Homo sapiens: one gene and its partners. The protein of the gene in region 3 interacts with the protein of the main gene of each other region in a biochemical or structural test. Each region holds a gene or a part of one and is shown on either strand. Other genes may lie near its edges.

Evidence for each region.
Region 1: the proteins of MAGI1 (region 3) and EZH1 interact in a test that uses a peptide from one of them, tested with the Homo sapiens proteins (one large-scale study listed by IntAct).
Region 2: the proteins of MAGI1 (region 3) and CTNNA2 interact in a test that uses a peptide from one of them, tested with the Homo sapiens proteins (one large-scale study listed by IntAct).
Region 4: the proteins of MAGI1 (region 3) and MYOT interact in a test that uses a peptide from one of them, tested with the Homo sapiens proteins (one large-scale study listed by IntAct).
Region 5: the proteins of MAGI1 (region 3) and JAG1 interact in a test that uses a peptide from one of them, tested with the Homo sapiens proteins (one large-scale study listed by IntAct).
Region 6: the proteins of MAGI1 (region 3) and PTH2R interact in a test that uses a peptide from one of them, tested with the Homo sapiens proteins (one large-scale study listed by IntAct).
Region 7: the proteins of MAGI1 (region 3) and SCN5A interact in a test that uses a peptide from one of them, tested with the Homo sapiens proteins (one large-scale study listed by IntAct).

What each region holds. Positions count from the first base shown.
Region 1 is NC_000017.11:42,738,541-42,742,040, forward strand, and holds part of EZH1 (histone-lysine N-methyltransferase EZH1), read right to left. Parts: intron 1-3,500.
Region 2 is NC_000002.12:79,873,051-79,876,550, reverse strand, and holds part of CTNNA2 (catenin alpha-2), read right to left. Parts: intron 2,476-3,500; coding exon 2,209-2,475; intron 1-2,208. UniProt on the Homo sapiens protein: May function as a linker between cadherin adhesion receptors and the cytoskeleton to regulate cell-cell adhesion and differentiation in the nervous system. Required for proper regulation of cortical neuronal migration and neurite growth.
Region 3 is NC_000003.12:65,430,419-65,433,918, forward strand, and holds part of MAGI1 (membrane-associated guanylate kinase, WW and PDZ domain-containing protein 1), read right to left. Parts: intron 464-3,500; coding exon 281-463; intron 1-280. UniProt on the Homo sapiens protein: Plays a role in coupling actin fibers to cell junctions in endothelial cells, via its interaction with AMOTL2 and CDH5. May regulate acid-induced ASIC3 currents by modulating its expression at the cell surface.
Region 4 is NC_000005.10:137,884,860-137,888,351, reverse strand, and holds the end of MYOT (myotilin), read right to left. Parts: intron 2,305-3,492; coding exon 2,139-2,304; intron 1,489-2,138; coding exon 1,355-1,488; intron 1,140-1,354; coding exon 967-1,139; 3' UTR 501-966; downstream 1-500. UniProt on the Homo sapiens protein: Component of a complex of multiple actin cross-linking proteins. Involved in the control of myofibril assembly and stability at the Z lines in muscle cells.
Region 5 is NC_000020.11:10,643,000-10,646,499, forward strand, and holds part of JAG1 (protein jagged-1 precursor), read right to left. Parts: intron 3,086-3,500; coding exon 2,972-3,085; intron 2,471-2,971; coding exon 2,357-2,470; intron 2,258-2,356; coding exon 2,144-2,257; intron 1,981-2,143; coding exon 1,864-1,980; intron 1,386-1,863; coding exon 1,358-1,385; intron 865-1,357; coding exon 779-864; intron 1-778. UniProt on the Homo sapiens protein: Ligand for multiple Notch receptors and involved in the mediation of Notch signaling. May be involved in cell-fate decisions during hematopoiesis. Seems to be involved in early and late stages of mammalian cardiovascular development.
Region 6 is NC_000002.12:208,409,792-208,413,291, forward strand, and holds part of PTH2R (parathyroid hormone 2 receptor isoform 1 precursor), read left to right. Parts: intron 1-3,500. UniProt on the Homo sapiens protein: This is a specific receptor for parathyroid hormone. The activity of this receptor is mediated by G proteins which activate adenylyl cyclase. PTH2R may be responsible for PTH effects in a number of physiological systems.
Region 7 is NC_000003.12:38,608,188-38,611,687, reverse strand, and holds part of SCN5A (sodium channel protein type 5 subunit alpha), read left to right. Parts: intron 1-1,723; coding exon 1,724-1,954; intron 1,955-3,473; coding exon 3,474-3,500. UniProt on the Homo sapiens protein: Pore-forming subunit of Nav1.5, a voltage-gated sodium (Nav) channel that directly mediates the depolarizing phase of action potentials in excitable membranes.

The DNA of each region.
Region 1 (3,500 bases), on a different chromosome or scaffold from region 3:
GAGATGGAGTCTCACTCTGTTGCCAGGCTGGAGTGCGTTGGTGCAATAACAGCTCACTGCAACCTCTGCCCCAGCTAATTTTTGTATTTTTAGTAGAGACAGGGTTTCACCATCTTGGCCAGGCTGGTCTGGAACTCCTAACCTCAGGTAATTCACCCACCTTGGCCTCCCAAAGTGCTGGGATTACAGGCGTAAGCCACCGGGCCTGGCCTAGATTTTTTTTTTTTTTTTTTTTTTGAGAAGGAGTCTCACTCTGTCACCCAGGCTGGAGTGCAGTGGTGCTATCTCAGCTCACTGCAATCTCCACCTCCTGGGTTCAAGCGATTCTCTTGCCTCCACCCCCCCTGAGTAGCTGGGACTATGCTCGCCACCAAGCCGGGTTAATTTCTGTATTTTTAGTAGAGGCGGGGTTTCACCATGTTGGCCAGGATGGTCTCCATCTCCTGACCTCGTGATCCACCTGCCTCGGCCTCCCAAAGTGCTGGGATTACAGGCGTGAGCTACCACGCCTGGCCCCTGGCCTATATTTTTAAATATTTCATCCTATTCCTTTTTTGATTCATAGTGTAATTGAAACCTGAATGATAGGGGTGAACCTATCCCTGCAAAGAGCTCTAGTAACACACCTTTGGGTCATTCTGGTGATCACCAATTTCATCAACATTTCAATTAAAATCAATTCTGTGACTAGGTACACAGCCTGATCTCTCAGTTAGGATCTATAAAGCACATCTCTAATTTATACCCTCCAACTTCTCTGAGGTATTTTCATCTGTCATTAGTTTGAGCTTCTGGGCACTACACACAGAAAGAACCTTCCTAACAGGAACCTGTGACTCTGAATTCTAATTTAAAATAAAATTATAACATTAGTATTTCCTAGTGTTGCTTAATTAAGAGAATCAGATCAGCTGGGTGCAGTAGCTCACACCTGTAATCCCAGCACTTTGGGAGGCCAAGGCGAGTGGATCACCTGAGGACAGGGGTTCGAGACCAGCCTAACATGCAGAAACCCCGTCTCTACTAAAAATACAAAATTAGCCGGGCATGGTGGTGGATGCCTGTAATCCCAGCTACTCGGGAGGCTGAAGCAGGAGAATCGCTTGAACCCAGGAGGCAGAGGTTGCAATGAGCTGAGATCGTGCCATTGCACTCCAGTCTGAGCAACAAGAGTGAAATTCTGTCTCAAAAAAAAAATTAGATCGTATGCACTGGAGGTAATGGTAACAAAAATCTAAACAGGATTAGTTTTTTTTTTTTTGAGACAGAGTCTCGCGCTGTCGCCCAGGCTGGAGTGCAGTGGCGCGATCTTGGCTCACTGCAAGCTCCATCCCCCAGGTTCACGCCATTCTCCTGCCTCAGCCTCCCGAGTACCTGGGATCACAGGTGCCCACCACCATGCCCAGCTAATTTTTTGTGTTTTCAGTAGAGACAGGGTTTCACCATAAACAGGATTAGTTTTTATGAGACCCAAAGGAAAATGCTGGCTCACAGGATTTATAACTCTGGTTTAATTTTATTTCATTTTATTTTGTTTTTTGAGAAAGGGTCCCACTCTGCCGACCAGGCATGATCATAGCTCACTGCACTTCGACCTCCCAGGCTCAAGGGATCCTTTGGCCCCAGCCTCCCTAGTAGCTGGGACTACGGGCACATGCCACCATGCCTGGCTAATTTTTTATATTTTCAGTGGAGACAAGATCTTTTTTTTTTTTTTTGAAACGGAGTCTTGCTCTGTTGCCAGGCTGGAGTGCAGTGGTGCAATCTCAGCTCACTGCAACCTCCGCCTCCCGGGTTCAAGCGATTCTCCTGCCTCAGCCTCCCGCGTAGCTGGGACTACAGGTGCAAGCCACCACGCCCAGCTAATTTTTGCATTTCAGTAGAGACAGGTTTCACCATGTTGGCCAGGATGATCTCGATCTCTTGACCTTGTGATCCACCCGCTTCGGCCTCCCAAAGTGCTGGGATTACAGGCGTGAGCCACTACGCCCAGCCTACAAGATCTTGCTATGTTTCCCAGGCTGGCCTTGAACTCCTGACTTGAAGTAATCCCCCTTCCTCAGCCTCCCAAAGGGTTGAGATTACAGACATGAGCCACCGTGCCCAGTGAGAACGCTGACTTGGAAGAGTAAAAGCAATCTCCTAACAGGCTAGAGCCCTATCTTGACTGGTTCTGTACTGTGTCAGCCCAAAGTTTAATACTGTACTGTATTTAGTGCCTGCTCATATCATCCAATAAAAATAAGACTTTTTAGTCTATTTTGAATCAAATTATTCGGGTAGGTGAGTTAGAGAATAAAACACACTAAAGGTACTGAATTCCAACTACCCATTAAGTAACTCATGACTTTAGGGTGTAGTGTACTCAAGTCTCAACTGATGATTGACTGATAGACTAAGGAGTAGGAAAGAATCCAATATGTACACAGTTTGGACATAAAACAAAACAAAGAAAAAGCTGGGGACTTTCCAGAATGGAGAAGCACAATTTTTCTTTTTTTAACCTTTAACCCTTCCCCTCAATCCCAACCTATCTAATTATCTTCACTTTTCTCCACAAATTGTTTTCTCTTTTCTCTTTAGTTTATTCTATGTAGAAATGGAATTAGTGTGTTTTTAGTGTTGCTACCTCAAATCTTTTCTGGGACGCTACTAGTGAACAAAATAGAAATAGTGAACAAAGTGGAAACTGTTTTTGAGACAGGGTCTCCCTTTGTCGCCCAGGCTAGAGTACAGTGGTGCCATCTCAGCTCACTGCAACCTCCGCCTTCCAGGTTCAAGGGATTCTCGTTCCTCAGCCTCCCAAGTAGCTGGGATGACAGGTGTGGGATGCCCACGCCCAGCTAATTGTAGAAACGGGGTTTCACCGTGTTGGACAGGCTGGTCCCAAACTCCTGGCTTCAAGTGATCAATCCCTCGGCCTGCTCCCAAAGTGCTGGGATTACAGCTGTGAGCCACAACGTGGGGGGCCCAAAGTGAAACTTTTTAAACTTAATCTAAGACCAGAAAAAGATATACTTAATGACATGAATTGTTACATGTTTCATATAAACAGCAAATCAAAGGGAAGGAACTGTTGCCTACAGAGTAATGAAGCCAGGTTTCAGACCCTAGGAATTAAAAATAGACAAAATTAATATTTTGAATCGGTTTCTTATTTTGTTTTGAGACAGGGTCTTGCTCTGTTGCCCAGGCTGGAATGCAGTGGCTTGATCTCGGCTCACTGCAACCTCTGCCTCCTGGGCTCAAGCAATCCTCCCTACTCAGCCTCCTGAGTAGTTGGGACTACAGGCCCACACCACCAGGCCTGGCTAATTTTTGTAATGTTTTTGTAGAGACAGAGTTTTGCCATGTTGCCCAGGCTGGTCTCACACTTCTGAACTCAAGTGATTCGCCCACCTCGGCCTCCCAAAATACTGGGATTACAGGCATGAGCCACAGTGTCCAGACTTAAATTGGTTGTTTGAAGGTATCATCCAAAGGCAAATATATAAGAAACA
Region 2 (3,500 bases), on a different chromosome or scaffold from region 3:
TCTTAACCAGCTCCTCACTTAGGTTTTGTTGTTTATTTTTGATTATAAAATAAATTATAACTAGAATAATGTAATTGTGTCAAAATCTGACTAAATAATCCATTCTTAACTAATTTTAATAAACACCAATTTATAAAATAATTTTGTATTTGAGATTGCCTATGATTTTTATTCTTTCATGGATGAGTCCATTTGTGTTTCAATACACACCTTTAAAATTAATGTAGCATTACAATGTTTTAATATCTGTGTGTATGACCTGCTCATTTACTTTTCCCTGAAATATGGGCTCATTCATTCTTTATTCTAGAATATAAAAAAAGACAAACAAACAAAAATCCTTTATCACTCCTCTGTCAAGTTCCAAAAGAATCCTCTTAGAATTTGTATTGAGATTGCTTCAACATTATGAAAACTGATAGGATCAATAGTTCTCCTACTCAAGATCATGATATCATTTACTGACAAGTAAAACTTGTCCCTCAATAAAGTAATATAATTTGACTTTTTAGGTCCTTCACATCTATATTAGACTTATTTCTAGCAGATATAAGAAATAATAAAATAAAATTAACTTTTTAAAAATTATTTGTTTTGTGAATATCTCCTCGTTATTCTACTTTATTTTACATGATGAAAATCTAGAGATTTTTGTATATTTATGTTATATAAAGTAAACATTATTTTGAACTCTCATTATTTTCTATGAATTTTCAGTTGCTCGCTGCAATTTTGTGAATAAAATTACCTATTATTAAGTCTTCATTTCTGTAGCAAGTGCTTTAAATATATTATCATATTTAATCCTCACAAAAAAAACCTTAGGAAATAATATATGGTGTGAGATACATATAACTAACTGTAAAAATATGGGAAAGAGGAGAGACCACTATGAAAATGGTAAGAACTATTTGAGTATGAACTGTTAAAATTATTCCTCAGTTATATCATCCATCTCCAAGCCTTGAACAATCATTGCTTTGCTCCTGGACCTTTTTTTCCAGCTGCTAACTAGTTATTTCTTGCCAAAAATTCACATCAACATATTCAAAAGCAAGCTCATCATCTTTCTTCATGACCATTAAGTAACCTATTTTTCTTCTATGAATTCCTGTAACATTGTGTTTTATCAATTAAATGGTGTTTAGTGCATTCTACTTCCCTCATCTCCCCTGCAGGGTTATTTAACCCTGGAAAGTAGATGCTAATTATTTATAAATCTTTGTAGGCTTTCATTGATCATAAGATAAATAAATTCCAACTTCTCACAGGTCCTCTGACCCGGGGGGAATGGGGGCTGTCATCCCGGGGTGCTGATGACATGCGTGCAACCTTCTCACTCACACTGATGCTTCACATATGGCTCAGCACAGTGAACAATCCTCCTTGCTTCTTCCCTCACCAGGACACACCTACAGAAACAGCCAGTGTAGAATGTAGGACTTTCAGAGAACTAACACAGGCTCTCCCCAGAGGGTCTGTTCTAATGAAGACCAGGGTCCTGTGTGGGATCATAGGGCAATGTACTTTATCACTGATTTAAAACAAAGAAATTGATGGCAGCTTTTCACGCAGGCACAACATAGAGGCAACGTACATCTAGGCTGCCCATAACATGTGCCCCTTTAATAATAAAGATGATCGTCAAATTATGAACTGTCCCTAAAATAGCCTGTAAGTTATCTCATCTACCTGGAAGGGATTGGGCACTCTTAAATACAGTTGTTTCTTCTTTTTTCCCCGAGACGGAGTTTTGCTGTTGTTGCCCAGGCTGGAGTGCAATGGCACGATCTCGGCTCACCGCAATCTCCGCCTCCCGAGTTTAAGCGATTCTCCTGCCGCAGCCTCCCGAGTAGCTGGGATTACAGGCATGCGCCACCACGCCCAGCTAATGTTTTACATTTTTAGTAGAGACGGGGTTTCTCCATGTTCGAACTCATGACCTCAGGTGATCCACCCACCTCGGCCTCCCAAAGTTCTGGGATTACAGGGGTGAGCCACCGCAGCCACAGTTGTTTCTTTAAAGACAAGTGATAATGGCTTAGCCAATATATTACAGAAATGCATTATGTAGTTTATCTTACTATTAAAACCTCCAAAAGAGAAAAATCAATGTAAATTATTGTAGTGGCCCTTCATCCTCAATACATTTTTTTTTTTTGTCAACACCAGTGCCCACCCCTCTGTGTACCTCACCAGGATGCTTACGTCAAACTCATTAAGAGCCGCAGCCAGCTCGCCGATGCCCGTGTGGCCCTTGGCTTCGTCAGTGGGCGAGGTAGCTTGAGCAGCATTGGAGATGCCGGCGATGGCCTCCTGGACTTGTTTGAACACATAATCTCGGTTGGCTCTCGTAGCGGCGACATCTGGGTGGCGGAGAAATGCTTGAGAGGCCGTGTACAGCATTGTGGCATTCTTCTTCAGAGCCCCTCGGGCGGCTGCCATCTCATCCCGACAGTGAGGATCCTTCAGCTCCTGTGTGTGTAACACATGAAAGCTGTCACACACATGAAATTTGCATAGAAATATTTGCAACACAGTTTGGAGTCACAGACTCTTAGTAACACACTGAACTTCAGAAACCCTTGTGCTGTTTCTAGCTGCCAGGCCTTTGCATATACTCTTTTGTTTGTTTGTCTGTTTTATAGAGACAGCTAGGTCTCTATAGTGACCTAGGTTGGAGTACAGTGGTGTTATCAAAGCTCACTGCAGCCTCCATCTCCTGGGCCCAAGTGATCCTCCCTCTTCAACCTCTTAAGTGGCTAGAACTACAGGTGCATGCTTCCACACCAGGCTAGTTAAAAAAAAAAAAGTTGTGGAAGTGGGGTCTGGCTATGTTGCCCAGGTGGGCCTTGAACTCCTGGCCTCAAGGGATTCTCCCACCTCTGCTTCCCAAAGTGCTGGAATGACAGCCATGAGCAACCACACCTGGCCTACTGTCCCTTCTATGTGAAATGCCTGAGCTTTCCTCCTCTGCCCTACCCTTTCACCTGACAGGGCTCCACTGACTTGGCACATCCTCCACCCAACTTTCTAAGCTGTGTCCCCTTTCATCTGTTCCCACAAGACACTCTTCCTCTCCTATCACTAACACTTCCTACTTTACTGTATTTTTTGAGCATATATTTCTCTTCTATAACGTACCTCTAATGACAGCAGGGAGCCCTAGTTTTCTTATTCAGTGGCTCTTTAGTCATTAGCAAAGTGGCTGGCCTATAAGAGGCATTCAATAAAATATTGCTGAGATAATATAAAAACCAAGCCACCAAGAAGGTAAATTGATTGCATGGGCCATACAGTTAGTTATGAACAGACAGAAAACCTGAAAACGTCAGTCTTCTGAGGCCCTACTTGCCTCCATATTCAATTACTGTTACAAATGGGAAACCAAACTTCTGATTTTTGCTCAACACATCAGTGTCCCTTAATTATCATTTTCAGAATAGGGTTCCTGCTTTGTTGTTGTTGACAGCCTCTAATGGCAGCTCATCATTAAGTTT
Region 3 (3,500 bases):
TTTATTTAAATGGGGATCTACAGTTTTAGTAACTCATTGCTTTACTGTACTCAAACAGTTTCCCAAACTTAAAATGACTTCACAGGTTTTAATCTGTCCCAAGGGATGAATTTATGTAATGTGGAGACCTGGCTCATTCTCAAGGTGTTTAAAGCTGTAAACATGTGCAATCATGACGTTGCTTGGTCTTGCTCAAACAAACAACATCATGATTGCACATGTTTATCTCCTGGATTGGAGTCTCACCACACAGAACACACTAAGGCCATGTTGACGCTACCTGTTTCCATCTTGCCATCCAATGCAGCAGGACCATCTAGGACCAAGCTCTTGATCTGGAGAAACTCATCAGGTTCATCCCCTCCAACCACCGTGAAGCCAAAGCCACGACTGCTTTTCCGCAGCTTTGTGTGAATGAACTTGCCTTTCAACTCAGAAGGGTTTCGTGTAAAAAAGGGTTTGCCTGGATTAAAATAAGAAACGCATAAGGAATGTCACCACTGGTGAAAAGGAGAATTAAACAAGATTTGAGACAACATATAGATAATTCTTCACGCTTATGCCCTAGAGCCTTTGGGCATATAGCATCTTAAGAAAGTCCTCTCTTAATTTGAGGAATAAGGATGTTCCTAGGCCCCAGTGTTGATGGAGGGAGGTAAAGCATTGAGTATGTCAACTCCAGGGTCCAAAAGAAACTACAAGAGAGGGATGAAACTAGTCCCTGTCAGGTGACACACTTCTTGGTTTCCATTCATGCACTTTGACAGGAATTGAGCTGCCACAAACCCCTTCACAGAAAATGGAACTGGTCTGTTTTATGTCTTTTGTTTTGTTTTAATTTTATTTTGCTATATGGCTTCTGATGTGCTGCTTTGGGCCTGGCTTCCACTTGAAAAACCAACAGAACTAATCAAACGGAAAATCCAGGCTGAAAATGCACAGATAATACCAGAAAACATATTATAGTCACAAATAATAATTTGACAAAAATGTAGAATGACTATTTTCAAAATTAAGGGTCATTACTTTGAATTGAATTCTAAATTCAACTGATTTTTTCCTATTTATCTGATCTTTTATTAAATTTGTGATATAGCCAACGCATGCCTAGGGCTAAGAATTACTGTTTAAAACAAGTTTAGGATATTTGTTTAAAAAACACAAACCAAAAAAACAAACAAAGAAACCCCCCCCACAACACACACACACAAAATCCCTAAACTAAGTAGTTACTAACAGTAGCCACACAGCTCCAAATTCAGCTGTCTTATTTAAAATAAATTAGGCTGGGGGTGTGGTGGCTCATGCCTGTAATCCTAGCACTTTGGGAGGCTGAGTCAGGTGGAGCACTGAGGTCAGGAGTTCAAAACCAACCTGGCCAACATAGTGAAATCCTGTCTCTACTAAAAAAAAAAAATACAAAAATTAGCCAGATGAGGTGGTGGATGCCTGTAATCCCAGCTACTTGGGAGGCTGAGGCAGGACAATCACTTGAATCCAGGAGGTAGAGGTTGCAGTGAGCTGAGATTGCGCCATTGCACTCCAGCCTGGGCAACAAGAGCAAAACTCTGTCTCAAAAAAATAATAAAAATAAAATAAATTTACAGATAGAGGTATCGCTAAATTATTTCCAAACATGCTACCTAAGGTTTTATTGAGTTTTCTTGATACATTCACAAATAACATTTTGAACATAAACCAAAACGTTTTCTTTTGGGTTTTACTAGGCACTTCTCTGTAATTGAGAAACTTACTGGAACTTCTCTGATTATCCCAAGTAGTAGACCTAATTTCATGAGCAGCTTCTTTCATCTCTTCTAACTTTACTTACTTCTTATACCCTGTCCTTGCCACACACAGCTTCTCCATCTGCCCTGTTTCTTTTCTATCAAAAATGTTATCCAAAACAAAAAGAGAGAGAGAAAGAGGGAGACATTAGTCCCCTACACCCCTGTACTAGGAGCCTGGCACCTAGGAAAGAAAGTTATTTTTGGTTAGTTATATCTAAAAGAGTTTAAAAGGTCTCTGGGCATGCATACAATTTTTAATTGCATATTTTAAAAGTTTCTGGCTCTTGCAAAGAAGGCTCTTTTAAATTGCCTGCAATCAGAGGTCCTTTCGCTAACCTGCTCTCTAGCGCAGTCCCAAAGCTTATTGGAAGGTTGACAAACTACAGCCCTGTCATAGTGGCTAAAGAAAGGCAAGACTTACAAGGATTCGCCACGCAAAGTCATCTGCCAAGGCGTTGGGAGGGTGGTGTCACTTGCACCAAGAGCTTTGGGGAGACAGCTGCCAAGACAATTATCAGATGGAAATTGAGGTGAGGTAAGATAACCCCCAAAGTTTACTTTAGGGGGAGGAGGGTGACTGGCCTACACTCTTGTAGCAGGTGCTGCTAGGGCATTCCAGGGCCCTGAAGGGAAACACATTTCAGTTATGCAGAGACATCAACAGCCATTACCTTCGCAGCAAGACCTTCCCTAACCACCTTACTAAAAATTGCAGTACCTCCAACATTCCCAATCCCTTTTTCCTGCTTTATTTTTGTCCTTAGCATTTACCACCTTCCAAAAGAATATACATCTTACTTATTGCTTTGGTTTTCTTACTATCCCCAACTCCCATGCATGAGTGGCATTGATATGCAGGTACATAAAACCACTAGAATGTTAGCTCCATGAGGATTTTTATACGTATATCAAGTATCTAGAATATTGTCTGGTACATTTTATGTGCTCCAAAAATTTCTGTTGAGTGAGAGAATGAATGAACAAATAAAAGCACACAGAAATGATATTTATCATGTCTTTGAGAAGGCTGAAAAGAGGTGTTTGGTTGTTGGAGCTTTTCACTCTTATTATAGGCTAAGTTAGAAAACGTGAAAATGTGCCTGGCAGTTTATCTACTTAAAAAAAAATACATTAGCATATTTTGTGCTGAGAATGTTAACTTAATAAAGACATGAGCAGAGCTTTGAAATTATACGACTGACTTCCTTTTCCAATGTTTAACAAGGGAAGGAAAATCAGAGGGTTTCACATTTATGCACATTTTATTATTTTTTACGTATGGGTGGATCATTAGTTAATGTAGCTTTTGGAAAGAAACGCTTTTCACCCCATAAGCAGTGGAATTTGGAGCTCTCAGCTGCAGCCCTGTGGTACATGTAATTTTCTAAGATCCTAACCTCTGTTTACCAGTCACCAGCGGTAAGACTTGGTTGTGTCTTACCCAGGGAAAATCCCCTGGGTAGCTTTTTAAAATGTACTCATTTTCACTTCCTTCCTTAGACTCACTGATCAGGATGTTCTGGGTCTTGGCCCAAAACTCTGCACCTGAATGAACCTTAGGTGCATGTTTCCCTGCCAGGATGGGGGGAGGGGAAAGAAATGTCACTTCTTGACACTAGTGTTTAAATACCCTAGACCAGTACCGTCTAATGGCACTTTCCGTGATGATGGAAATGCTCTGCACCTGCACTGTTCAATATGGCAGCCACT
Region 4 (3,492 bases), on a different chromosome or scaffold from region 3:
AATTATTAGAGGAAAAACACCCATATATAGGTAATCAAATTTACATAATTTTTTTTTTTTTAGAGATGGAGTCTCGCTATATTTCCCAGTCTGGCCTCAAACTCCTGATCTTAAGGGATCCCCAGCTCAACCTCTCCCAGCAGCTGGGACTACCGGGCTGTCAAATTTACATTAACTATGAGAATTAAGCAGGTAATCTCTAGAGACTATTCTTATTCCTTTGAGCATAACAGACTGAAAAATCCTGAAGAATTAGAAACCTGTTTGGTTAAAACAAAATCACAAATTCAGTAGATTCAGTCATGATTTAAGTTCTTGTGATTGCCTTTGAAGTGCAAACCATGGCAAGTCTAGCTTAGTTTCTAGAGGAATTGGCTGAGCTGTAAGTGAGCTTCACACTGTTCTAGAATATAACATTGCTCTTTTGGAACTTGTTATTCATAGGTTTTGCTGAGTGGAGTTTTATTTTACAGATCTAGACTTTTGTGAAGAGGAGACAGTCCGTTTTAAATATTTGAATTTTATTTTCTTTTGACATACAACTGTGGAACACTCAGATAATCTATACCATGTTAGTATTCCTACAAGAGAAAACGGGTAAAACAGTATTTAGAAAGCAGTACCAGTAAACGTTATTACAAGCATTAGATGTGTTTAAAAAGTTGATACTAATTTATAACCTGTAATTGTTAAATGTGCATGACTTAAATGTTAAAATCCTGTATTTTAAGATAGTCTTCTGCAGTTACAAATCCATATACCCAGATTTCCTGTAGGCTTCACAAATCGGAGGGGTACATAGAATGTGCAAGAGTCAAAGGATAAATAATATTATAAATATATATTAACTATATTACCTAATTAAAACCATAATCTGTTAATACAGCTATGGATTAATTTCAAAAAAATGTAATCAAATATATTACTAATGGTGTAGTTGGCTGTTTTCCAATGTTGGTAAAGTTATTAAAGTTCTTCACTTTCATAGAGTCCAGATTGAGCTGCCAAACGCTGAAATTCTCCTTCTGGGTTAAAAGCTTGTTTTACATTCAAACCTTTCCCATTAAGTGCTAAATATTTGCTGAATGTTGGTCGAACCCGTAACTGCTTAGGAGCTGGAAGAGTTTGGTTTGGACGTGCTGAAATAGATCACATAAAAGTTGATTCAGAAAACCTGTTCTAACCAAATTGGTCACACTAGGTATTTATTATCAGACAGGAAAAGAAAAAAGAACCAAAACTGATTATATATGGGGAAAATATCTCAAATTTTATACTCTGCTGGGATTTTCATTTCTTATTAAATCTTCCTAGTTAAATCCCTTATAATACTTTGGTTAATAGTATGACATACCCGTAACGTCTAATCTTGTGTTACATGTAGTCACTCCAGCTTCATTAACTGCTGACACAGTATACCACCCAGCATCTTTCTTGTTTACATCTTTTATCAGTAAAGTAACTCTTCCAGTGTTATCTTGATATAAGCTGAAATAAAAATTTTTAAGAAATGAAAGTACAGGAATTATTTCTGTGAAGTGGATGTCTCTGACCAACAGTCAGACTAGGAAGAAAAAAACATTTGAAAATTCCAAAGCTGTATCTATTTATTGCCAAATAGCTATTGGTTTTCTTGAATTAAACATCCCCCCTTGGGTGCTGTCTCCCTCTGCTCTTCAATCTGTCCCCTGATGGTCCCTGTCATTCACTCGGGTGTGTCTGTGTTTGTATTTATGCGTATGTATAGGGGAATGGAGGGGTCCTGACCTGTTCCGTTATCTGTCTCCTACCTCCTCCTTTGTTTAATAAAGGCTGAAGCTTTTTGTAAAGAAAGAAAAGAAAAGAAAACATCCCCCTTTAATCTTGTTTATGTCATTTATTTCCTTGGGCCATCTTTCATCATCGTTGATAAAAAGATAAATCCTAGTCTACTTTATGCCTTACATTTCTGATTAGTGGAATCTGGCTTACTGAAGTTTTCTTACATTTTTATCTAATATATATTTTATTATATTATTCTTTAGTGTTTTAAAAACTAGACAAATTGAGATAAATGCATGCCATTTATAATGCATGTTAAAAAGTATAACTGGATTCACCCAAATAAACTATAGTAAGTCTAGAAATACATATCCTACCTTATTCGGTCAGTGTTGAATTGTACCATTTCATTATTTCTTTTCCAGAAAAGCTTTGGTGGAGGTATAGCCGAGATCTGGCATTCTAGTTTCACTGAATCTCCCTCTAAAACTTTTTTGCTCTGTGGTTTGTAGATAAACATTGGTGCTCTTTTATGTTCTTTTGCTATATATTAATACAAAAATTCAAGTATTTGAAATATTATAAAAAAGGTATTAAATCAAACCAAGGTATTATGAAATTTGTATGTTGATATTAAAATGTTAAAAAGCAACAGCAACAGAAAGAAACTCAGTAAAAAAGACATGCAGTACTATTTTGTTATACCATTCAGAATTCTAAACTCTAATGTAATGATGCATTGAATTGATAATCAGATAATTATATTTCATTCAAACTAAAGTCATATTCTTTTTTTTTTTTTTTTTTTTTTTTTTTTTTGAGACAGAGTCTCGCTCTTTTGCCCAGGCTGGAGCGCAGTGGCGTGATCTTGGTTCACTGCAACCTCCGCCTCCCAGGTTCAAGGAAGTCTCCTGCCACAGCCTCCTGAGTAGCTGGGATTACAGGTGTGCACCACACCCAACTAATTTTTGTATTTTTTTTAGTGGACACAGAGTTTTGCCATGTTAGCCAGGCTGATCTCTAACTCCTGGCCTCAAGTGATCTGCCCACCTCAGCCTCCTAAAGTGTTGGGATTACAGTCATGAGCCACCGTGCCTGGCCCAAATTTAAGTTATATTCTTTATCATCTCATCTACAGGGAGGCAGCATGAGTGATGGAAAGAGTATCAGACAGCTTGGGTTCAAATTACCTATTGGCTCCATGAGCCATGCCAAATTGGTAAAATTTTGTTTAGTTTCTCTGAGTCTCAGTTTTATCTATTGTTATAAAAAAAAAATCCCGGTAGTAGTGACTGTTGTGTCTACCACACAAAATAATTGTAAGGAACAAATGAGATAATAAACAAAGAGATACTTTGTAAACTCTGAAGGAATGTGGGAATATCAGTAATTATTATGACCTTATTTTCAGCTACCTGAGGGGAGACAGGAAACGATAGTTCAGTACCATAACCCTGGTTTTTCTGAAGGAGAAATGAGATTAAACGGATGGCAGCCAAGATCTCTTTCAGCTCTACTATTGTAGTATTTCTGAAGCCATTGGTACAAATAGGATTTGTCTAAACTTTAATCACTTAAATTGTATGTGTTTTTGAAAATTTCCAGCCCACTAGTTTTTCCCCTGAGATTGAGGCCCTTTGGTATATTATTGAATAATCTTAAAGATTTTGTATTGATCTGGGTAGAATATAAACTCAAGAAAATAGTTTATCCTTTAACCTGATCAAACTT
Region 5 (3,500 bases), on a different chromosome or scaffold from region 3:
AATGAATGTGTGGCTGTGTGCCAAGAAAACTGTATTTATAAAAACAGACAGTGGGCTGGATACGGCCCCTGGGCCACAGTTTGCCAACTGTTTATTTAGAAACATGAAACAGATACAACCTGCCCCCATCTAGTGCTGAAGACTAGTTAATCCCAGACTTGGATTTCAAGCACCAGTAAAATTTCAGACAATTTGGGTACAAGAATCAAACCATAACTACTCTAGCACCTTTTTTGTTCTGTAAGAGAAAGGGCTTGTAAAAAAGTAGAGAAAAGGCTCAAAATAATATGCTTTAAGCCTCTTGAAAAACTGCGTTGCCTGCCCCTATTTTCCTGTTTTAGTCATTTCTCCAGGGCCTGATCAGACCCAGCACAGACAAGCCTCTGGAAGCCACAGTCGTCCTCCCTTCCGTTTGTATTAGCTTTATCCTATACCAGTGTAGCTGTGGTTAACATCTGCTTGCCCATAATTTCATGTTAGTCATGGGGAAATGCACATACTTTCTTCAGGACCCCACTGTAGATTAATCATCAGATTCTGTGACTGGCACTCTCTCCCCAAGAACAAGGAGGGCTACACCACCCAGGGAACTACCAGCAGGTACCTGGGAGGATCCAGCCTGGCATATCTTAATCCCAGCTGGAGGAGAGAGATCCTTTGCTCTATGAGAGCTACTTAAAGGGAATGGTGGCTTTGTTTTTAAAGATGAAAGTCTTGGGGTGAGGCATGGAATGAAGCGGTAAAGCCATTGGGAAAACCAGACGGAGACAGTCCTTACTTATTCTGCAGTCGGGCCCAGCAAAACCCGGGGCACATTCGCACCGGTACCAGTTGTCTCCATCCACACAGGTGCCGCTGTTGTAACTAAGAAAGCAAAGACCACCTTGGTTACCAACCTCCCAGTCCATTACTCTGGCTGCCAATCACTCACATGTCACCACACCAGTTACAGTCAGTGGCTCTCACCCCATGGCCGTTGCCTGGGGAATTTTAAAAGAATACTGATGCCTGGGTCCCACCCCCAGAAAGTCTAATTTCACAGGTCTTGGTTGCAGCCCAGGCAGCGGGATTTTTAAAAGCTCCCAGGTGATTCTGGTGTGCAGCCAAGGTTGAAAAATCACTGCTCTAAATGAGGACACAACCTGGCTAATTAAAGTGTGGTCCATGGGGCAGCAGGATCGCTTCACCTGGGAGCTTGTTAGAAAAGCAGTCTGAGGCCCCACCCCAGACCTCCTGACTCAGAACTTGCATTTTAAACACAATCCCTGGGTGATTCTCACACACACACACACACACACACACACACACACACACACGATAGTGGATGAGTGCTGGCTTAAAAGGATGTCACACTTACCAGGGATGAGGGCTGCAGTCATTGGTATCTGCAAAGAAAAGACAACTTAATAGTGAGGACTTCAACAGGGAAAGCGGTCTTAGCCCTAAGTAAAACCACCACTTATTTTCCTAATACCCAAATGATAAAGTCGTAGTTAACACCAGCAAAATACCTTTGCTAAATTGGAACCAGGCCCGCACCACACTTAGTTTCATTTGCTGTGGGACACATGTACACAGGAAGAGGCCCTGGTAGGGGATAGGGGTGGGGGTGAGAATGGAAGGAGACAGGCTGCTGGTCAGACCCAGAGCTGGGAACTGAGACGCCATCTGTCTCCACTTATCTTATTGGCGACTTTCTCATGCCCAGGTCAGGGCTGTATCCCATCAAGTCATTAATGCAGACCCAGGTGATACAAAAGCAGACATCAAACAGCTCTGCTTCTGGTTTCCATTGCAAGTCCCCAAGGGTGTCAGGATCTGCTCCGACAGCCCTGGGAGAGTTCAAGGGGGGAGGACACTCACTCTGAGCACAGATGGGCCCCTCCCAGCCTTCCTTGCAGACGCACGTAAAGGACTCGCCGTTGACCACACATGTGCCCCCATTATGGCAGGGGTTGGGCAGGCAGCTACTGTTTCGGGCTATAAAAGAAGAGCAGACACGACCACCCTCCCTGAGTATCCAGAAACAGTCTGGAGGGGCAAGAACCAGGCCCAGAGAAATATCATAAGCTCCAGGGGCCAACCAGCAGACACGCCCAGGTGGCCATGCCCACTGCAGATCCCACGTGGGGCATAAAGTTACCTATGTTACAGGTTGTTCCTTCCCAGCCGCCAGGACACATGCACTTAAAAGCATCCCCCTCATCATAGCAGGTGCCACCGTTGTTGCACGTGGCCTCATCACACTGACTGTCACCTGGAGGAAAATATTTCAGTGTGAGTCCCAGTGGCCCCCTCCCACAGAAGACAGAGGGAAGGGTCCCAGAGATAGCATCCAAGGCCAACTACCACTTACGTGAGTGGCAGGTCTTTCCTTTCCACCCATTTTTACAGTCACAGTAGAAGTCATTGACCAGGTCGCGACACGTGCCCCCATTGTGGCAGGGGTTCTGGCTGCAGTCATTAATATCTAGAATCAAAGGGGAGACAATCGGCTGAAGACGAGATCCAGGACCATTCACGACAGGCGAGAGCCAAGCCTTTCCTACTGCTTACATCCAACATCCTATTCTGAGAACAGCCACAGTCGTAGTACTTTAACACAATCAGGCTTTTCCAGGAATAAAGGAGCTCCCAACTGGGTTACTTTGAATGCCACAAGTTAGGCAAGATGTGGGGTGGGCCTCTGGAAGTCCCATGGAAATGAAAGTAGAAATATGACTTTCCTTGCAAGCAGGAATATTTATTACACAGTCTAATTCTATAGGTCCTCAGCAGAAGCTCCTCCCCATAAGCTATCATCAGGACTCATAAATGCAAATGAGACACAAGTGATACTGTCCCAGTGCAGAAATCACTGCGGTCTTGCTTCCAGAGATTTCCAGTACAAAGAAAGTTTTCCCACGTTGAAGTGGGATCCCTCCAACATGACCCATACATCCCAGAGCTCCCCAAAGAGTGGCAGACTCACTGGTTTCACAGTAGGCCCCCTCCCAGCCGTCACTACAGATGCACTTGTAGGAGTTGACACCATCGATGCAAGTGCCACCGTTTCTACAAGGGTTGCTCTCACAGTCATTAATATCTATGAAACAAAGTAAAGCAAAAAAAGAACTGAAGGACTTGTGAAGCCATAGACAAGCACTGTTCAGCAGTTTTCATGGCTCCCTCCTGACACAATGCACCTGGCACCTCCACCTGCTACCCTCCATCAGGGCTGTTTCTCAAATTAGACAGGCGGCTTATCAAGCAGAAGCTTCCAGAGAGTGCCTTACCCACTTAATGCCCTCACATGGGCATTTAGTCACCGGTACTAGGTGAAAGTGGGGAAGAAACTCCTACAGAAAAGAGGAATCACCCAACCTAGCAACATTCCAGAATGTTCCAACATAGATATGGAGGCTCCGAGGCAGAGTGATCTGGTAAATTGAACACGACCTCAGTCTTAGATCCCAGATGTAAGGATAAGTCTCAACCAGTCTCCCCAGCCTTACTGTTTC
Region 6 (3,500 bases), on a different chromosome or scaffold from region 3:
TTTTCTATAGTCAGATTATCACATGGTAATGAGGACCACTATATAAACATGTTCAGTATTTTCTTTACTGTGTTAGTGGATCCTCCTGGTAACAGACTGTAGGATGGAATTGGGGTGCTAGAGGTTTATTAGGGGAGGAGGTAATGCTTGTGAAAGTTGAAAGGGAGAGGGAGAAGGATTGGACAGGGGTAACCTCAGACCGGCAAGCAAATCTGACAAAATTTTTTCCAACTCAAAGGAGAACCTTGGGGGAAAGGTGCCCATCAGAGGAGTCCCATGCTGCGAAAAAATGGCCAGGTCTTAGAATTCCTACTGTTGACCTTCCAGCATGAAGATTCAGAGCCTACTAGAAAATCAGAAATCTCTTTCTAGGTGTGGAAAAATGGTAATCAGTAATGCTACTTGCCAAGTACCAAATACTGTGCTAAGTACTTGATTCTCTCATTTAATTATCACAGTAACTTTATGAGATGGGCACTGTAATTGTTCACATTTTTATAAATGAGAAAATGGGGCTATGAGATGTTAGATAATATACTCAACTCACACAAGCAGCCATGATTTATACTCTGACTTTTACCTCTGGGGCCCACCCCTCCTACTGGTACCCTCATTGTGGAGATCAGCTGGGCACTGCTTAGTGACATTATGTATACACATGTCCTCTGTCCCAGCAATCTCCGCCCCGAGTCTCTATCCCAGGGAATTTCTCACCCAGGTCTATAATGATTCTTGCAGTAATTCTGTGGTGTTAGAGAATTAGGGGCAATCTGGGTGTTTATAATGGGGTATTGTGTAGCAATAAAAAGCAATGGCTTAAATGTGCACAAATCAGCATGGACAAGATCGTAAAAACAGGATAACATGTGACAGAAACAATAGGATATATGGTATGATATCATTTACATACATTAAAATACATGCACATAAAACAGTAATATATGTTTTATGAACATATTCAGATAAAAGATTGTGTGTGTGTGTGTGTGTCTTACATAAATGCTTGTATATGGGAGGTAGAGAAGTAGGAGTGGGGTATAGACATAAAATGGGATAAATCAATAAATCAAGTAGGCCTGCACTCTGCATCTCAACGCATGTGTTAATTACAAATTGTGGTGATAATAAACAGAACTGTCAAAACTATTACTGATGGAGTTAAGAATGAGGACAGCCGGGCACAATGGCTCATGCCTGTAATCCCAGCACTTTGGGAGGCCAAGGCGGGCAGATCACTTGAGGTCAGGAGTTCGAGACCAGCCTGGCCGACATGGTGAAACACCGTCTCTACTAAAAATACAAAAATTAGCTGGGCATGGTGGCACACGTCTGTAGTTCCAGCTACTTGGGAGGCTCAGGTGGGAGGATCGCTTGAACCCTGGAGGCAGAGGTTGCAGTGAGCTGAGATCATACCAAGTCCTAGAATATAGGCAGCTTCTCCAAAGTGGAAACTAGGGACTGTCTTTGGCAGAATGAAATGGAAACTCAACATTTGATTATCTCTATACTGTGTTTATTGCCACAAACACTATTGTAGTTAAAGATAAGAGAGTTGGTTTGTTCTCATTCTTTTCTCTTGACAACGAGGACTATTTCCATTTGTCTTCTAGTTATAAGGAAGCCTTAAATCCCTGAGGAATGGGCTTCCTGGTGGCTGCATTAATTGTGAGTAGTCTCTTCAGCCCTGGTAGACCAGAGGCAGTGAGATGGAAGGGTCCCAGGTGTGGCTCTTCCTTGCCAATGCACAGAGAGTAGGTTTCATATTCCCAGAACTTCCTCAATTCTTTGTGACAAAATAAAATATTTTCAGCAGGCATTCATGCATCTCACTTATTTTCCTGTCTTGAACTTCAATTGGTTTTGTCATCTACTGGAACCCATCTTGTCCTTTCTTTCCCCTCTGTTTTGTTTTTTTCTTTTCTCTGGGTTATTCATTAAATTTTTAAACAGCCGTGTGACTTTAGTCGTTAATTTCATCTCTTGGTTGTCTCCACTGGCTCCACTGTAAAATAGGACTTACTCATAGAATAAGCATTATAGTGACATCTACTCATAGAATGTGAGTCTTGAATTAAACATATACAAACAAAAAGCTTAAAGGTGCCTGATAACAAAAGATGTCAGCTCTTTCCTCTTCTTTTATTAGCAGATGAGTTAAGTTATTTTTAATGGAATGATTACTAGATTAAGATTATTTCTAAGCATTAGTGAGAACTCCTGAAGGCTTTTAAATGGGGTGTGTATGTATGTGAGAATTTTGCGAGGCCATTTTCTCTTCCTTTTATTTCTTACGGCTTCTTCTTCAGAACCCACATTTTTTCTGATAGCAATTGGACATTTTCTTCATAACACTGATAGCTGTTATAATATTACATTTATTAATATAAGTACTTGATCAATATCTAACTTCCTCATTGCTTTTGCTCAAAATTTGTTTCCTTCTTGCTGATGGATATTACCACTTTACTTTTCCCAGTTGTTATTGTCTCCCAGGATCGCACAGCTGTGCTGCATGACAGATGTGTTGCCTAGAGGGAGTGACACTAGTTAGAAATGAATAGAACATTGGCCACTGCTGCTATTATGTGTAGATCTATAATTTGGCCTTCAGCCTGATTTTCTGTAATCTCAGATTCTCATTGCCAATTGCTGGCAGGAAACAGTCTTCTTGATGACTTGTCATGTCCAAAAACAGGTCAACACTATTTCTAGAGTGATAATCATTGGCTGATTTCATTTCCCCATGAAATGAACTCCATCACTGAGTAGAGCTGCCATAGAATAGCCTTGAAAGGCAGAGGTAGTGCTGTGTGAGGACACTGTACTGGGAGATAGGACACCTGGCTGTAGTCCACGTTTTACTATAAATTAGCTGGGTGGCCACAGATAAGTGGCAAAATTATGGGTCTCATTTTATCATGTCAAGAGTATAAGGTTTAGAGTTCCAGCATACCAGAGATTCATATTTTTTCAGGTTATCAACAGAGCTAGCTTTAAAGAGTGTTTTTACTATATACATATAACAGGGATCAAAAGCAGAAACTACCCACATTTCTATTTAGTCTTTGTCTATGTGCCTATTCAATTAATATATACTTTCAATTATGTCATAAATGAAATTTTATATATATTTTCACTTGACATTATACAATCCACTTTTTTCCATTTTCCTATGACTATTTTCCTGTCTTATGTACTCATTCTCTTTCTCTCTCACTACTGTCCCATCTCCTCTCAATCCCACTCAGATAATACTGTGTATCTTCCACCTCTTTCTCCATAATTTATTTGCTCATATAAAATATAAACACAGATGTAGTTATTTCATCTTTATTTGTTTAAAAAGTGACCACACACACACACACACACACACACACACAGAATGTTTATAAACAATGTAGAAGACTGGCAATTTGAACTCATTAAATTATATTACAAATGACAGAGAGCCACCACTTGAATCTTGAGAAAGTGATCCTCCTTTCATCTTGGAGTGTTAT
Region 7 (3,500 bases), about 27 Mb from region 3:
TTTCCATAAAATGAGAGTGAAATCAGAATTGGTGATTTCCAAGGGCTCTTCCACCCAGCCTGTTAATTCAGTGGCAGGAGGATTTCCCAGTTGATCTCCTGGGGCCAATCCCTTCCTGGGTCTTTTCAGAAAGAATCCTGCAGTTTCGTTGCAACCATTCTTGCCAGAAGTGAAATCTATCATCAGTATGAGAAATGTTCAAAGGGGTGAGTTACCCTTGGCCACTATGTCCACAGACCAGGTCAGGGGGTGCTTTGCTGGCCTTGAATGGGATACTTCAGGCCAAAGAGACTTTAGCCTAACAATTGAGGCAGAGACCAGTTTGGGTATTGGAGCTGCTGTCCATCAGTCTTCACTTTGTTCCCTTCGAGACATGCAGGTCTCCAGCCCAGTAAACCCACCAAAGGGTACAGGAAGCTCTGTTACAGATGAGGAGCTCTGGACCATGAAGAGCTTGTGAATCTCACCACCGCCACTACTCTGGACCCAGACCTGTGAGGTCCACCCACTGCCCAGGCAGTTGCCAACATCTGCCAGGAACGATTTCCACAAGGAAGGCTGAGTGCCTCTGAGCCCTGGGTGGGCAGCAATGTCAGTGGCACCATGGGGAGGTCATCCTCTCCCCATCTTGTGTTTGCTCATCATGGCCTCCCTGCCTGTGGGTCACAGGCCCAGCAGCAGCAGGCACAGAAGCCACAGGCGCTCCTAACACATTAACCGGCTGGACAGTGGATGGATGGAGCTTAATCTGAGATCTGGCCGCTTGGGACAGGGACATGAGGGGCAGGGCCCTGCCGCTGGCAGAGGAGCCTCCTCATTCCCCATGCTCTGCTTGCACTTGTCCTAGGACAGTCGCTAAGGGCCAGACTGGTGTCTACACATGCTTTTCTGTCATTCTGCTATGTGGTGCTGGCTTCTGCAGGGAGCTAGGCTGTGCAACTAACAGAACACAGCCTCTCAGCTATGGGAAATGGGATGGATGGGGGTGTGGGGAGGTTCTAGAGGGACAGGGCAAGTGAGAAGATGCAATGCAGGTCAGTCCTGTTCCTGAACCTTCCCTAAAGGTGGGCCTGAGCCAGCGCAGGCCCCTTAGACATCACCCGCCATGACCCCGCCAGACCGTCACCCACAGCCCCCAGCACACACCTGACCACAGCCCTCAGCCCCTACCCGACCAGACCCTGGGCCCCTAGTTTCCTCCAAACAATCCACACTCCCTGTACATCAAATAGAGCCAGCCCCAGCAGTGGGGCAGGAGGACCTCCAGCAGGAATGGCTCTATTTCTCCCCATCTCAAGATCAAGGCTGAGGCCCCTCAATTGCCTCCATCTCCTTTTCCATGGACTACATTAAAAGGGGTAGGCCTAGCACACCTTCAGACTAGCCAAAGGGGGTCATGCTCTGAGTATGTGTTGTCTCAAGAAAGCAGCACTTTCCACACCCATGCCATATATTTGGCTGGTGGAGAGCAAAGAGGAGCAGGCTCCCTCTGAAACTACAAAGCCAGCCTAGACTCCTGCCCAGGGAAATCAGGACAGAATCTCAGCTGTGAGGAAAGTGGGGCTTGGGTCTCAAAGCCCAGGAGAAGCCTCCCTTATTCTGTCCCCACCTCTGGTTGCCTACACTGGCCCCACCCCAGCTCAACTCAGGCCCAGCCCCCCACCAGTGGAGCACAGAGCTCGGTGCCCCTGGGTGACCCCGTGCTTGTTCTTGCCTTCCCCAGGGCTGAAGACCATCGTGGGGGCCCTGATCCAGTCTGTGAAGAAGCTGGCTGATGTGATGGTCCTCACAGTCTTCTGCCTCAGCGTCTTTGCCCTCATCGGCCTGCAGCTCTTCATGGGCAACCTAAGGCACAAGTGCGTGCGCAACTTCACAGCGCTCAACGGCACCAACGGCTCCGTGGAGGCCGACGGCTTGGTCTGGGAATCCCTGGACCTTTACCTCAGTGATCCAGGTGCGAACTTGCTCTGCAGCTGGGGAAGACTTTGTGAGACCAGCAGACCGGGGTCACCTCCCACACACGCGTCACCAGAGGGCAGGCCTCCAGGGCTGTTCAAGCCCTGCCTGATCCCCCAGAGACCCAGACAGAGGACAGACGGGTAGCAGACTTAGGGCCTGCCTTGTGACTTCCCAGGCTAGACGGAGAGGCAATGCTTGAGGAGTGGAAAGTATGGAGTTAGATAGAGGGCCAGTTGGCTGCGGCATTTGGAGATGGGACTGACCCTAGAGTGTTGCAATGGCAAGGTGACCAGCCTGCCCACAGAGTGTCAGCTTAGGAAAGGGGTGGACATGGAGCCAGCGTAGTTGATGAGGCTTCAGAGTGAAGCCCCACCTAGCTGGCATGGAGATTTCCCAGTTGCCGTCAGTGTTCCTTGCCAGGATGCTCGTTCCATATACGTGTACCCCAGAACCCTGCAAGAGGGTTGGAACAAGCCCAATGATTGTGCCAAGTTGTGTGAGCCCCTCTGTTGTTTCACTGCCCCGTGGCTCACACTTCCATTCTCCAGGCTGATGGCCAGCACCACTCTTGACTAGAGCCATTGGTCTGTTTCGGAGGTACATGCTGCTGCAAGGCCAGATTCCAGGCCACAGGACCCTGGGCCAGAATGACCCTGAGGGCCATTCTGAAGTTAGGGCCTCTTACATACACCAGCAGTCCACTTTGGAAAACAAAACATAGACACTCAATGAGTAGTTCAGCAGTGGCCTCATAACAGCAGTTCTAAAACTTCCATGTACACCCAAGTCACCTAGAAGGCTCTGGAAAACAGACTTCTGGGCCCCACCCCTAGAGTTTCCGAGTCAGTAGGTCTGGGTGGCAGTCAGGAAGTTGCATTTCTAAGCAGTTTCCACTTGATGCTGATGATGCTGGTTCGAGGACCATGCTTTGACAACTGTCGCCTAAGACAAAGCCAGGTAATGGTGAGTGTTGGGGACTGATGACTTGCCACAGAAAGGAGAGGACAAGACGGGCAGTCCTGTCTGGTGTAGCCCCATCCGGACAGACCACAGCGTTAGCATGGTGACTATTGCAGGCATCACTTCCAGCATTTTATGTGATGGAAGTGAGTACAGAGCTGGGCAGTAGCCGGCCAAGGCCCCACAGTGACTCGGCAGCCAAGCCGTAACTGCCCAGACCCTTGCCTCCTGGCCTTGGTGGGCCCCCTGAGTGGTTTCGGGTAGGGTGCAGAAGCTTCCTGTGGGGAGAGCTGAGGCCCTGCCCAGGGCTTCCCGTGTCTTCTGAGAGCATGGGGACACTGGCAGCAGGATGTCTTCAGAGGAACAGAAGGAAGGCCAGAGGCACAGCCAGAGTTGCCTGAAGCCTGGCCAGGCAGAGGGCAGGGGCAGGGGCAGGGAAGGGGCAGAGAAGAAGGAAGACCGCTAGTGAGGTCTCCACCTCCCCAGAGCCCTGGATGCAAGGCGGAAACTTTTGGGCCAGAGTGCCCCTCACCAGCATGATGTTTCTCTTACAGAAAATTACCTGCTCAAGAACGGCACCT